Regions from separate parts of the Homo sapiens genome. Here region 2 is linked to region 1. The links come from fine-mapping of genetic effects on gene expression. A gene starts in region 1. The other region holds a variant in brackets. All regions are shown on one strand. Distances are between the middles of the regions. Region 1 holds the start of RNASEK (ribonuclease K). Region 2 holds the start of SLC16A13 (solute carrier family 16 member 13).

Region 1 (5,161 bases):
CACAGGCTATGCATCCCACAGCCAACCAGCCGCCTCCTTCCGATTTCTGGGACCCCTTCCACGGATGCATAAAGAGGTCCTCCGTAAGGGGAGGCGGAAAGCTCTTGAGGCCCTGCGGGAACCGGGAGGACCCCAATCACAAGAAATCACAACCACCTCCACCTTAGACACCCCTTTCCACCATCAACGTTAAACGGCTGCTGTACACAGCACACTGAAACCAACTCGCCAGGAAGGGCTTTTCAAAACAGACCCACCAACACAGCCTGCAGCCGTCTGGGGGAATTCCATGAACTGGGGTGGTTGGGAGTGGCGGTGGTTTGTGGTCGACCCGTTCGCAGCAGGGAGAACTGTGAAACAGGAGTCTGGGCTATGGGCCTGTCTGTATTTTTATCTGTCATTCATTCCCTCACCCAACGATCATTTATTAACACCGACTCTGTGCTGTGCCACGCACAAAGGGAAACTAATGTCTGTCCCTGTGCTAGAGAGGGTCCGTGTCTGTGACCGAGTCCAAGCGCCCGCTCTCAGCGTCCACGTCCCAGTCCGGGCTCACGTACCCCGCAGGAGAAGAGTCGGCCACGGGATGCAGCTGCATCGTCAGCTCCCCGAGCTTCGTGAAGGCGGCGCCGGCCGCCGAGAAGATCTCTCCGACCTGGGGGCGGGGCAGCGTCACGGGGGGCCGGCGCCCGCCCTCCCCGTCCCGCCCGGAGCCCCTAGCCCCACCCCAGGCTCGGCTCCCGCCCGCCCCCCGCCCGGGGCGGAAGAGCCGCGAGCCAAGTGGGGGGCCCGCCCTCCCGTGGCCGCCAGGGAGCGCTGTCCGCGAGGGAGGTCGAACCTTTGTGGACGCTGACGTCATGGCCCCGCGCGCCTCCTCACGGAGACGCCGCCGCCGCCGCTACACGCGAGCCGGGACCACGGAGAGCAGGGAGACTGAGCGGCTCGGGCCCCCGCGCAGGAAGTCCCGCCCTCCCCGCAGCGGATAGGCTCAACCCGGCGGCTCCCCGCCCCATCAGACGCAGTCGCTTAGACCGCTCGGCGCGCCCAGTCGATGGGGAAAGCCTTCGCCTCACTTCCGCGCCACACTTCGCTCCACTTCCGCTCAGACATCGGGACTTTCCAGGCAGAGGCCGACCTCTAGTCTCAGCCCCGTGCTCGCCCCCACTCAAGCACAGACACAGGGCTGAAGAGAGCAGATTCTCTTTATTGAGATACGGGACACAGCGAAGGGTGGAGAAACGGAACAGCCCCCCAGCCTCAGCCCTCTCCACGGGGGCCGGATGCCAGAGATGGGAGAAGGGATTCAGTCTCTCGCCCGGGAAACCCAGTCCCGCAGAGGGCGCCGGCAAGGGTGGGACGCGACCTGGGTGACACGGTGCAGGGAGTCTTTAAATAGAGGAGGGGCTGGAGCGGGGAAACGCGCCGGGGCCCTAGCGCACCATGTATTCCTTGCGCTTATTGAGCCGAACTTGGCAGAAAGAGAAGCCTCCGAGGAGGAGGTAAAGGCCTGCAGCGATGAAACAGTTGTAGCTGACTTGCTCGTAAAGGTTGTATATGTTCTGGGGGCCATTCCTGGGGGTGGGAATGAAGCAAAGGGGTCAAACTTTAATAGGAGCCAACATTTTCTGAGCACTATGTGCCCGACACCTGTTTAGGCGCTGTTACGTGTATTACTTTATTCAATCTTCTTGACCATCCTATGGGGTGAGATCTGTCATAGCCATTTTGCAGAGGTGGACTGAGAAGCACAGAAAAGTAAAATACCTAAAGAGGTCACACCTAAGGTGGTGGGTTTGGGATGGCCGCTGAGGTCTGACTCCCTGGCTCCTAACCACATTCTCAAGAAAGCCGCTCTCCTCTCCAAGTCCTCTAACCTAGGGGCCCTAAGCACCGGGCCTCCCAGACGTAATTCTGACCCTAGGCCTCGCCACCTCCCACCTGCTCCCAGCCCGCCTCCCCCACCCGAATACTTACTCAAAATCTTTCTCCGTGAAGGGAACGTCCTCAATCAACACAGCGGAATGGACATTGAAAAATATTCCGAGCATTATCTGGAAAAGGGGAATGGGTAGACTGTTGAATTCAGGCACCTGACCTCATGTTCACTTCGTAAACCCCTCCCATTTCCAATGTTGCTACAACACCCGAGCCTGAGATTAACCAAAACGAGGTGGTGGTTACTGGATTCGGACTCAGCCACCTGGAACAGGGCGTGAGGTGGTGACATTGAGACAAGTGGTCGAGGCAAGGGTGGGAATAGTGACCAAGCCATCTCTCCCAGGAACCCAGATTATCGTCCTCTCTGGAGGCGTCATCATCACGGGACAGTGCGGAAGAGGGGAGGGAGAACCGGCACTTCTTCATATCATTTCTTCTTGAAGTGGCGGTGGGTGGATTACTGGGAAAACAAGGCCCAGCTACACATTTCTGGAACAAGCACTCTCTTTTCCTCCCATGTCCTCCATTCAACTCAAGCACCTCTCAGGCACCCCGCTCTTGTTTCTCCTACCTTGAGGGGTCTCCACCTTTACCAGCCCTGGCTCCTCCCACTCCAGGGCCCTCCGCTCCAGTTCCCTTTTTTCTTTTTCTTTGGGGACGGAGTCTCGCTCTGTCACCCAGGCTGGAGTGCAGTGGCGCGATCTCGGCTCACTGCACCCTCCGCCTCCCGGATTCAAGCGATTCTCCTGCCTCAGCCTCCTGAGTAGCTGGGATTACAGGCGGGCGCCACCACGCCCGGCTAATTTTTGTATTTTTATTGGAGACGGGGTTTCACCATGTTGGTCAGGCTGGTCTCGAACAGTTCCCATTTTTCAATTTCAGTCTGTCTCCTTCTCCGGGGCCTGTAGATCCCCGGCCCCTCCGGCCTGCCTGCGGCCCAGAGTTTCCTCGCCTCCCAGCCCTCCCAGCCCGGAGCCCCTCAGGCCCTCTCCGATCCTTGCCGGGGAGTCCCCTCACCAACATGATCACTCCCCAGGCGCTGAGGACGATGCCGCAGGCGGCCAGCTTCGGCCCACAGCACAGGAGCGACGCCATAAAGAAGGGAGTCGGGGATCGCCGAGGTGCAAGCGGGCTCGGAAAGCGGTGGGAGAAAGCCCAGGATGCCCTCGCAGGGGGGCAGAGGGGGCGTGGCCCCGGCCTCAACCATCCCATCCGGGGGCGGCAGGCGGAAAAGGCTGGGCTCCTCTCAGGACTTTCGCGGGAGACGGCGCCGTCTGAAACCAAAACTGCTCCTGGGGAAACCTTCCTTGACCTCTGTAGCTAGGGCGTGAGTATTGGAAGAGCGAGGGCCTCCGGTTTGTTGGTCCCCCTCCCCCCGCACACGGGAATGGAAGGAGCTGGTATGTCACGTGACCAAGCCTGTCACGTCACGTGACGAGGAACTAGCCTTAGCGAGGCCATGGGGGAAAAAGTCTAACTGGCGGAACTCCTGGGAACTGGGGCGATGGGCTCTTAGTATCGGAGGATTGGAGCCATCTGATTTTTACCTGAAATTCCTTAGTCTCTCCTGTGTTGGGGAAATGGTAAGTAAGACAGATTTTCACCAACAGAGAGCGTTTCTATCTCTTCTCTACTCCTCCCTTTTAAAATTGAGATTCTGACAGTGTAAAGGAGTTAGGACCCCCTTTTGGGGATCGGGCATGGTTTTGTGGCTTTAAAATGCTTTAAAATTGCTGAAGTTTCTTGGTATTGGAACTGTTTCTCCTAAGTAACATTTTATCATCGCACGTGAAATACTGTAACTCTCGGTGCCAAATCCAGGAAAAATGGGCGGTTAGGAGAAGTCCAGGGAAAGCCGACTGAGCAGGTTGTGAAGGTAAGCAGTCCTGTTAAATGTACACAAAAATGTCACTTTGCTTCTCTAAACTAGGAAAACTGATAGGACTTTTGAATAAGGTAGGATATAAGATTTAAAAATATAAATAGGTCATCCCCTCCAAAAAAGCCGTTTGTATGTTTAACTGGTGAGTGACAGATCTGTAATAATTATTTAGAAATAGGAATGTCGAGGCGGGCGGATCACCTGAGGTCGGGAGTTCGAGACCAGCCAGGTCAACATGGCGAAACCCTGTCTCTACTAAAAATTACAAAAATTAGCTGGATGTGGTGGCATGAGCTTGTGATCCCAGCCACTCGGGATGGTGAGGCGGGATAATCCCTTGAACCCGGGAGGCGAAGGTTGCAGTGAGCTGAGATGGCGCCACTGCATTCCCGCCTGGGCGATAGAGACTACTTCTAAAAAAAAAAAAAAAAAGAAAAGAAAAGAAGTAGGGATGTTTGAAGAACACAGTTTTGCAGTGAGCAAGTTGTACCCACTCTAGTGAGGACAGTGACCTCAGAATAATTGAGAGGGATCATTTGACCTTGAGACCCCAGGACCTAACAAATAAACACTATCATTGGCTAGAATAACTTTGTAGTTCTTGTCCATTTATTTTGTGCATGTTGTTCTTAAAAGGCTTGTGAAAGATAACTTGGAATGTGGGAAACACATAGATCCCAGAGTATTAAAGGGGCTGGAAAAGTAGCCTTAAGACATGAATTATGTGCCTTTCATCTGGGACTGTTTGGAGAAAGAAGCCATTTTGGGGCAGTGGTTTGTATTCTGCCCCAAAAACATGATTCTTATTCAGGGACTTTTGGGGTACATGGGTGAATAGGAGAAATATGGGTGGAAGGAATTTGCCAAAGAACTGAGTCAGGAATTTGTACATTGGCCACCAGGCATGAAGGTTAGTTCCTGGGAATGGAGAGTTAGCTGAGGTAAGCTGATTTTTCTAAGAAATCCCCCTGCTCCATGATCTTGGATGTTTTGGAAGTAGGGTCAGGGCCTCAGGCTAGTGCAGGGTTCAAGGGCCAAATCCAGTCTGTAGCCTGGCTGTGCATGTCTCAAACAAAGCACATTTGTTTGTGGATTTTTTTTGCATTTTAAATGGTTGAATAAACCAAAAGAAGACTACTTTGTGATGTAACATTCATATCTCAGTGTCCATAAAGTTTTATTGGAACATAGTCACACTCATTTCCATGTTGTCTGTGGCTGCCTTCATGCTGCAGCAGGAGAGCTGAGTAGTTGAGACAGTGACTATGCGGTCTGCAAAGCGTAAAAAAGGATCTAGTCTTTGCAGAGAAAGTTTACTGCTCCCCTGGGCTAGTGGGATAC
Region 2 (5,481 bases), 23 kb before region 1:
CAGCAGGGTCCTCAGCCAGGGAGGGTGGGCGGAGGAGAGCACCACAGGCCACTAGGTGGAGGGAGAGGGCAGACACCAGCAGCAGGGACCCCCTCCAGGCGTAGTGGCTGAGCAGCCACTGGAAAAAGGGGGCAAATGTGAAGGAGGAGAGGCCCACGCCTGTCAGTGCCAGCCCGGTGGCCAGGGATCGTCGGCGAGAGAAATAACAGGACAGGCAGGCCAGGGTCGGAGCGAAGGTCAAAGCCCAGCCAGAGCCTGTCAAAAAGGAAGAAGTGGTGTTGAGAACTCTTAGGGAGCTCAAGGCACACAGTAATCCCCGCATTGCCCAGCAGCAGAATGTAGCACTTGCTTCGGAGTCCCACAGACCTGGGATACAATCTTGGCTTGGATACTTCATAGCTGTGTAACCTTGTGTGTTTTACTTAACACCCCCAGCCTCAACCTTCTCAACTGCAAAATGTAATAATACACTTTTTGGGATTGTGGAAGATTAGAGACAAAGTTTGTAAGGTAACTAGCACAGAACTTTGGAGTTAGACCTGGGCTCTACCATTTCTAGCTGTGTGACCTTCATTTGCCAAGTTGTATAAGCTTTAAAGCTTTTCCCCAGCTGTAAATCCAATAATGATATCGATTTCACAGTCACAGTACCTAGCACCTTTTTTTTTCTTTTTTTTTTTTGAGACGGAGTCTCGCTCTGTCGCCCAGGCTGGAGTGCAGTGGTGCAATCTCGGCTCACTGCAAGCTCTGCTTCCCGGGTTCACACCATTCTCCTGCCTCAGCCTCCCGAGTAGCTGGGACTACAGTCACCTGCCACCACGCCCAGCTAATTTTTTGTGTTTTTAGTAGAGACGTGATTTCACCGTGTTAGCCAGGATGGTCTTGATCTCCTGACCTCGTGATCCGCCCGCCTCGGCCTCCCAAAGTGCTGGGATTACAGGCGTGAGCCACCGTGCCTGGCCCCTAGCACCATTTTATAGTAATTCTTCCTTTTACACTCCAGTCCCATTAGCCCTGGGCTTCTGGGCTTGTATACTTGGTTTCATCTTTTTTTTTTTTTTTTTTGAGACAGAATCTTGCTCTGTCGCCCAGGCTGGAGTGCAGTGGTGCGATCTTGGCTCACTGCAACCTCCGCCTCCCGGGTTCAAGCGATTCTCCTGCCTCAGCCTCCCGAGTAACTGGGATTAGCGCCACCAGGCCCGGCTAATTTTTGTATTTTTGTAGAGACGGGGTTTCACCATGTTGGCCAGGCTGGTCTCAAACTCCTGACCTCGTGATCCACCCGCCTCGGCTTCCCAAAGTGCTGGGATTACAGGCGTGAGCCACCGTGCCCGGCCAGGTTTCATCATCCTTGAATTTCCTAATTCCTCACCATGTTTGTCGCTTTAGTCATTCCTATTAAGAATTCCCTTCTGGGTACAGGTGCTAGCTAAACTTTCCCTCAGCTTCTCCCCGAACCCTTTGGAAGGAGCAGGAAGGAGGTGAACATCCAACGATCTAAGCATTTGACTCTCCTGCCCTTGTGCAGGCTCTCACCTGACAGCAACCCAATACTCAGGTATAGGTGGGTCAAGGAAGTAGCAAAAGAGGCGAGCAGCATCCCCAGCGCAGCCAAGATGCCTCCAGTCATCACCACGGGCCTGGGCCCGAACTTCGTGCTCAGGGCACTGCCTACCGGGCCTGAGGAAGTGGAAGGGGCGCTGCGAGAAGATCTCAGGGGTCTCCCCCCCAGCATCTCCCGCCCCTCGCCCTTCCACTTCCCAGTCGCCGCATTCCCTCTCCCTTCCGAGGGTCGCAGTCCGCCAGATCCAGGCGCCGCACTCACTCCCAAACTGCTGCACCGCGATTCCTATGGAGGCGATCCAGGAGACGCGCGCTGCCTGCTCCTCAAACGCCGCCACAAACTCCACGAAGAAGACCCCAAAGGAGCGGAGCACCCCAAACACAAGCGCCGACTGGAAGAACGCTGAGAGCACCACCACCCATCCCCAGCCCCCGTCGGGGGGCTCTGTCCTGCGCGCCATCTAAGCGGTAACAGGGCTGCTGCCACCCAGAGCCTCTGCAGGAGCCGGGTTCTGGACGCCGCACCTCTGCACACCCACCCCCGCTGCCGGGTGGCTCGGGGCCGAGAGGGGTTGGAGAGGCAGGTAGAGAGGAAGGGCCCGACGAGGCGGCGAGAGGCCCCTGCACCTTTTCCCAAGGCGGGGCGATATAGGACTGAAGACCTGGCCCGCGCTGGCCGGGCCAGAGTCTCCCGGGGGCGTGGTTCCGCGAGCTCGGAGCTGAGCTAGTTCAAGCCGGGGCCGGATCGGTCCCGGTTCGGTGTTCGGCTGGGAGCCAGAGGGTGGAACTGAGTTTGGGCCCCACCCCTGGAGCGCGCCAGTTTCCGTGTAGATGATCTATTTTATCACTGGGGTGTCCGGGCCGGGCCACCCTGGAGCTCGCCAATGAGGACGCGGGGCTCCCGGGCAGGGGCGGAACGAGAAGGGCAGGGCGGGATTTAGGCATTGTTGGGGACCAGCAGTGAATGGGCGCATGCGTAAGGAGGGGCGTTAGGAGGCTGACTAGGTAGGGCCCCACGTGACGCGGGGACTGCCAGGAAGCTTCCGTCTCCTCTTCACCTAGCGGGCCAAGTCATCCCC[G/A]TTTCAGCACCCAGAGCCACACGGAAGGGTTAGTGGTGGGTAAACTGGGTCTGGAGAGGAGAGGACTCTCTTGCTTTAATGAGGGGTCCAGGAATTGCAAGGCCCTGTTGGGGGTAGGGGAGGGGTTAGGAGATGAGACTCAAACGAAGTGTTTGGCGCAGCGCCTGAAGCCACTAACACGCAGCCCTAGGCACGCAGACCTAGAAGCCTGGATCCCTGAGAAGTTCAACGGCTAAGGGAAGAGAGAAGGGGAATGAGTTGGACTCCTGGCGTTCATTTCTGTAGTGGGAACTCGTTCCTGTCACTTCTGTTCCCACTAACAGGAAACCTACAGGTCACAGAGACCAAAAATAACTGAGGAGAGGAAGGGCGGCTGTAAGCTCACACAGGGCCCCACCAACACCACCTACCTCTTCCTCACTGGGGCTGGAACCTTTTCCTCTGCCCTCTAGTAACAACCACTTCCTAACCACCTTTTTTGATCTGATGGTGGGGTAGACTAAAGAGACAAACTATGACCCTGGCCACTGGAGCAGTCAGCCCCCTCTTACCCAAGTAGTCCTCAGGCCCCTAGCAAACACTCCCCAGTCCTTCCCAGTCTCCATAACACCAATGGCTTGGATTTCCTGTTCCTTCATTATAAGCCATACTTCCCAGGACCCTGACCTTGAAACCGTGGACTCAATGTTCACTCCCAGATTACTGGGGAAAGCAGCAAACAAGAAGTGGAGGCAGGGAGGGAGGTGTGTAGTCTTAAAAGACATATTGAGCCTTAAATAATTTTATATGTGGGAAATAAAAGTAATCATCAATAATACACATATATACTTTCTAAGAGTCAAAATGTCGGCTGGTGGGGAATATGCCAAAGATACAGAAATTGCTGTGGCTGTATTACATAGTGATTAAGAACTCGGGTCTTTAGAATCAGATCACAGTTCCAGTCTTTTATTTATTTATTTATTTATTTATTTATTTATTTATTTATTTATTTTGAGATGGAGTCTTGCTCTGTGGCCCAGGCTGGAGTGCAGTGGCATGATCTTGGCTCACTGCAACCTCCACCTCCCGGGTTCAAGTGATTCTCCTGCCTCAGTCTCCTGAGTTTCTGGGATTACAGGCTCCCACCACAACGCCCAGTTAATTTTGGTATTTTTAGTAGAGACGAGGTCTCACCATGTTGGCCACGCTGGTCTCGAACTCCTGACCTCAAGTGATCCACCAGCCTTGGCCTCCCAAAGTTCTGGGATTACAGGCGTGAGCCACCGTGCCTGGCCCAGTTCCAATCTTGACTTTATTACTTAACTCGATCAAGATGCTGAATCTCTCAGTTGGTTTCCCCATCTGTAAACTGGGGATAATAGTACCTACTATTAAGCGTTGCCCAAGGGGTTCAGTTAGAAAATCCATGCACTAAAAATGCTTAGTTTATGTGCTGACATGCAGCAGGAGCCAAGTAATATTAGCTTAGCTGGTCTTATTGGTGTTATTTTCAACAGGGGATAAGCTGCTGTAGTGGGAAGTGAAGGAAGGTTTTAGTTTAGTGTTTTTTTTTTTGTTTTTTGTTTTTTGTTTTGAGATGGAGTTTTGCTCTTGTCTCCCAGGCTGGAGTGCAATGGCATGATCTCGGCTCACTGCGACCTCCACCTCCTGGGTTCAAGTGATTCTCCTGCCTCAGTCTCCCGAATAGGTGGGACTACAGGTGTTTGCCACTATGCCTGGCTAAATTTTTTGTATTTTTAGTAGAGACAGGGTTTCACCATTTTGGTCAGGCTGGTCTCGAACTCCTGACCTCAGGTGATCTGCCTGCCTGGGCCTCCCAAAGTGCTGGGATTATAGGCGTGAGCCACCATGCCCTGCCTAGTTTTTGTTTTTTGATTAAAAAAAAAAAAAATCTAATCCAGGTCATGGGTTTAAAAAGATTGAGAAACGACCACTGCGATGGTTTGAATGTTACCTCCAAAAACTCATATTGAAACTTAATCCCCAACTTGGCGGTACTGAGAGGTGGAAACTTTAAAAGGTGATTGGATGGGATTAATGGATTAATTAATCCCCATGAATTAGCCCACCATAATGGATTAATAGGTTAACAGATTAACCCCATCATAAAGGACTAAAAGGTTAATAGATTAATGGGTTATCATGGGAGGGGAATTGTCGGCTTTTTCAGACAGATCCAAGCTAGAACATTAGCATGCTTAGCCCCCTTTGCCATGTGACACCCTGTGCCACAGAGAGTCCATATCAGCAAGAAAACCCTCACTAGAGGGTGAGGCCCCTGGACCTTGGATTTCTCAGCCTCCATACTATAAGAAATAAATTCATTTTCTTTATAAATTACCCAGTTTCAGATAATCTGTTGTAAGCAACAGAAAATGAACTGAATGAGACAGAAAACTGGTACCAAGAAGTGGGGTGTTGCTGATAATGAATAACGGAAAATGATGAAGTGGCTTTGGAAGTGGGTGATGGGCAGAGGCTGGAAGCATTTGGAGGAGTAGGCTAGAAAAAGCCTAGATTCTGGAGAGGTCTTAGAAGACAAGAAGACTAAGAAAAGTTTGGAATTCTTTAGAGATTGGTTAAGTGTTTATGACTAGAATGTTGATAGAAATATGGAAGCAGCTGGGCGGGGTGGCTCACGCCTGTAATCCCAGCACTTTGGAAAGCTGAGGTGGGCGGATCATGAGGTCAGGAGATTGAGACCATCCTGGCCAACATGGTGAAACCTGTCTCTACTAAAAATACAAAAATTAGCTGGGCATGGTAGCACTCGCCTGTAATCCCAGCTACTCGGGAGGGTGAGGCAGGAGAATCGCTTGAACCAGGGAGTCGGAGG

What was found. PIP is the estimated chance that this variant, and not a neighbour inherited with it, causes the effect. A credible set is the group of variants that fine-mapping cannot tell apart.
Region 2: its variant is the best candidate, but not a certain one, in a credible set for the expression of RNASEK in whole blood (TOPMed, PIP 0.89).

What each region holds. Positions count from the first base shown.
Region 1 is chr17:7,010,556-7,015,716 of GRCh38, reverse strand. RNASEK (ribonuclease K) reads right to left here and starts at 3,093. Exons shown (of 3, transcript NM_001004333.5): 1 at 2,956-3,093; 2 at 1,975-2,051; 3 at 1,185-1,572. The coding sequence starts at 3,033. The coding sequence ends at 1,431. ALOX12 (arachidonate 12-lipoxygenase, 12S type) reads right to left here. Exons shown (of 14, transcript NM_000697.3): 14 at 4,963-5,161. It overlaps BACC1 (BPTF associated chromatin complex component 1), which reads right to left and starts at 935. Exons shown (of 6, transcript NM_174893.4): 1 at 839-935; 2 at 561-655. The coding sequence starts at 859. It overlaps ALOX12-AS1 (ALOX12 antisense RNA 1), which reads left to right and starts at 3,383. Exons shown (of 3, transcript NR_040089.1): 1 at 3,383-3,521. It also overlaps RNASEK-C17orf49. RefSeq lists enhancers at 122-622, 1,093-1,222, 973-1,473, 2,653-2,832, 2,913-3,032 and 1 more and a silencer at 553-1,002.
Region 2 is chr17:7,032,926-7,038,406 of GRCh38, reverse strand. SLC16A13 (solute carrier family 16 member 13) reads right to left here and starts at 2,392. Exons shown (of 4, transcript NM_201566.3): 1 at 1,826-2,392; 2 at 1,537-1,680; 3 at 1-255. The coding sequence starts at 2,024. RefSeq lists enhancers at 1,825-2,064, 2,795-2,844, 2,453-2,953. The variant G/A (reference allele first, on the strand shown) is at 2,643.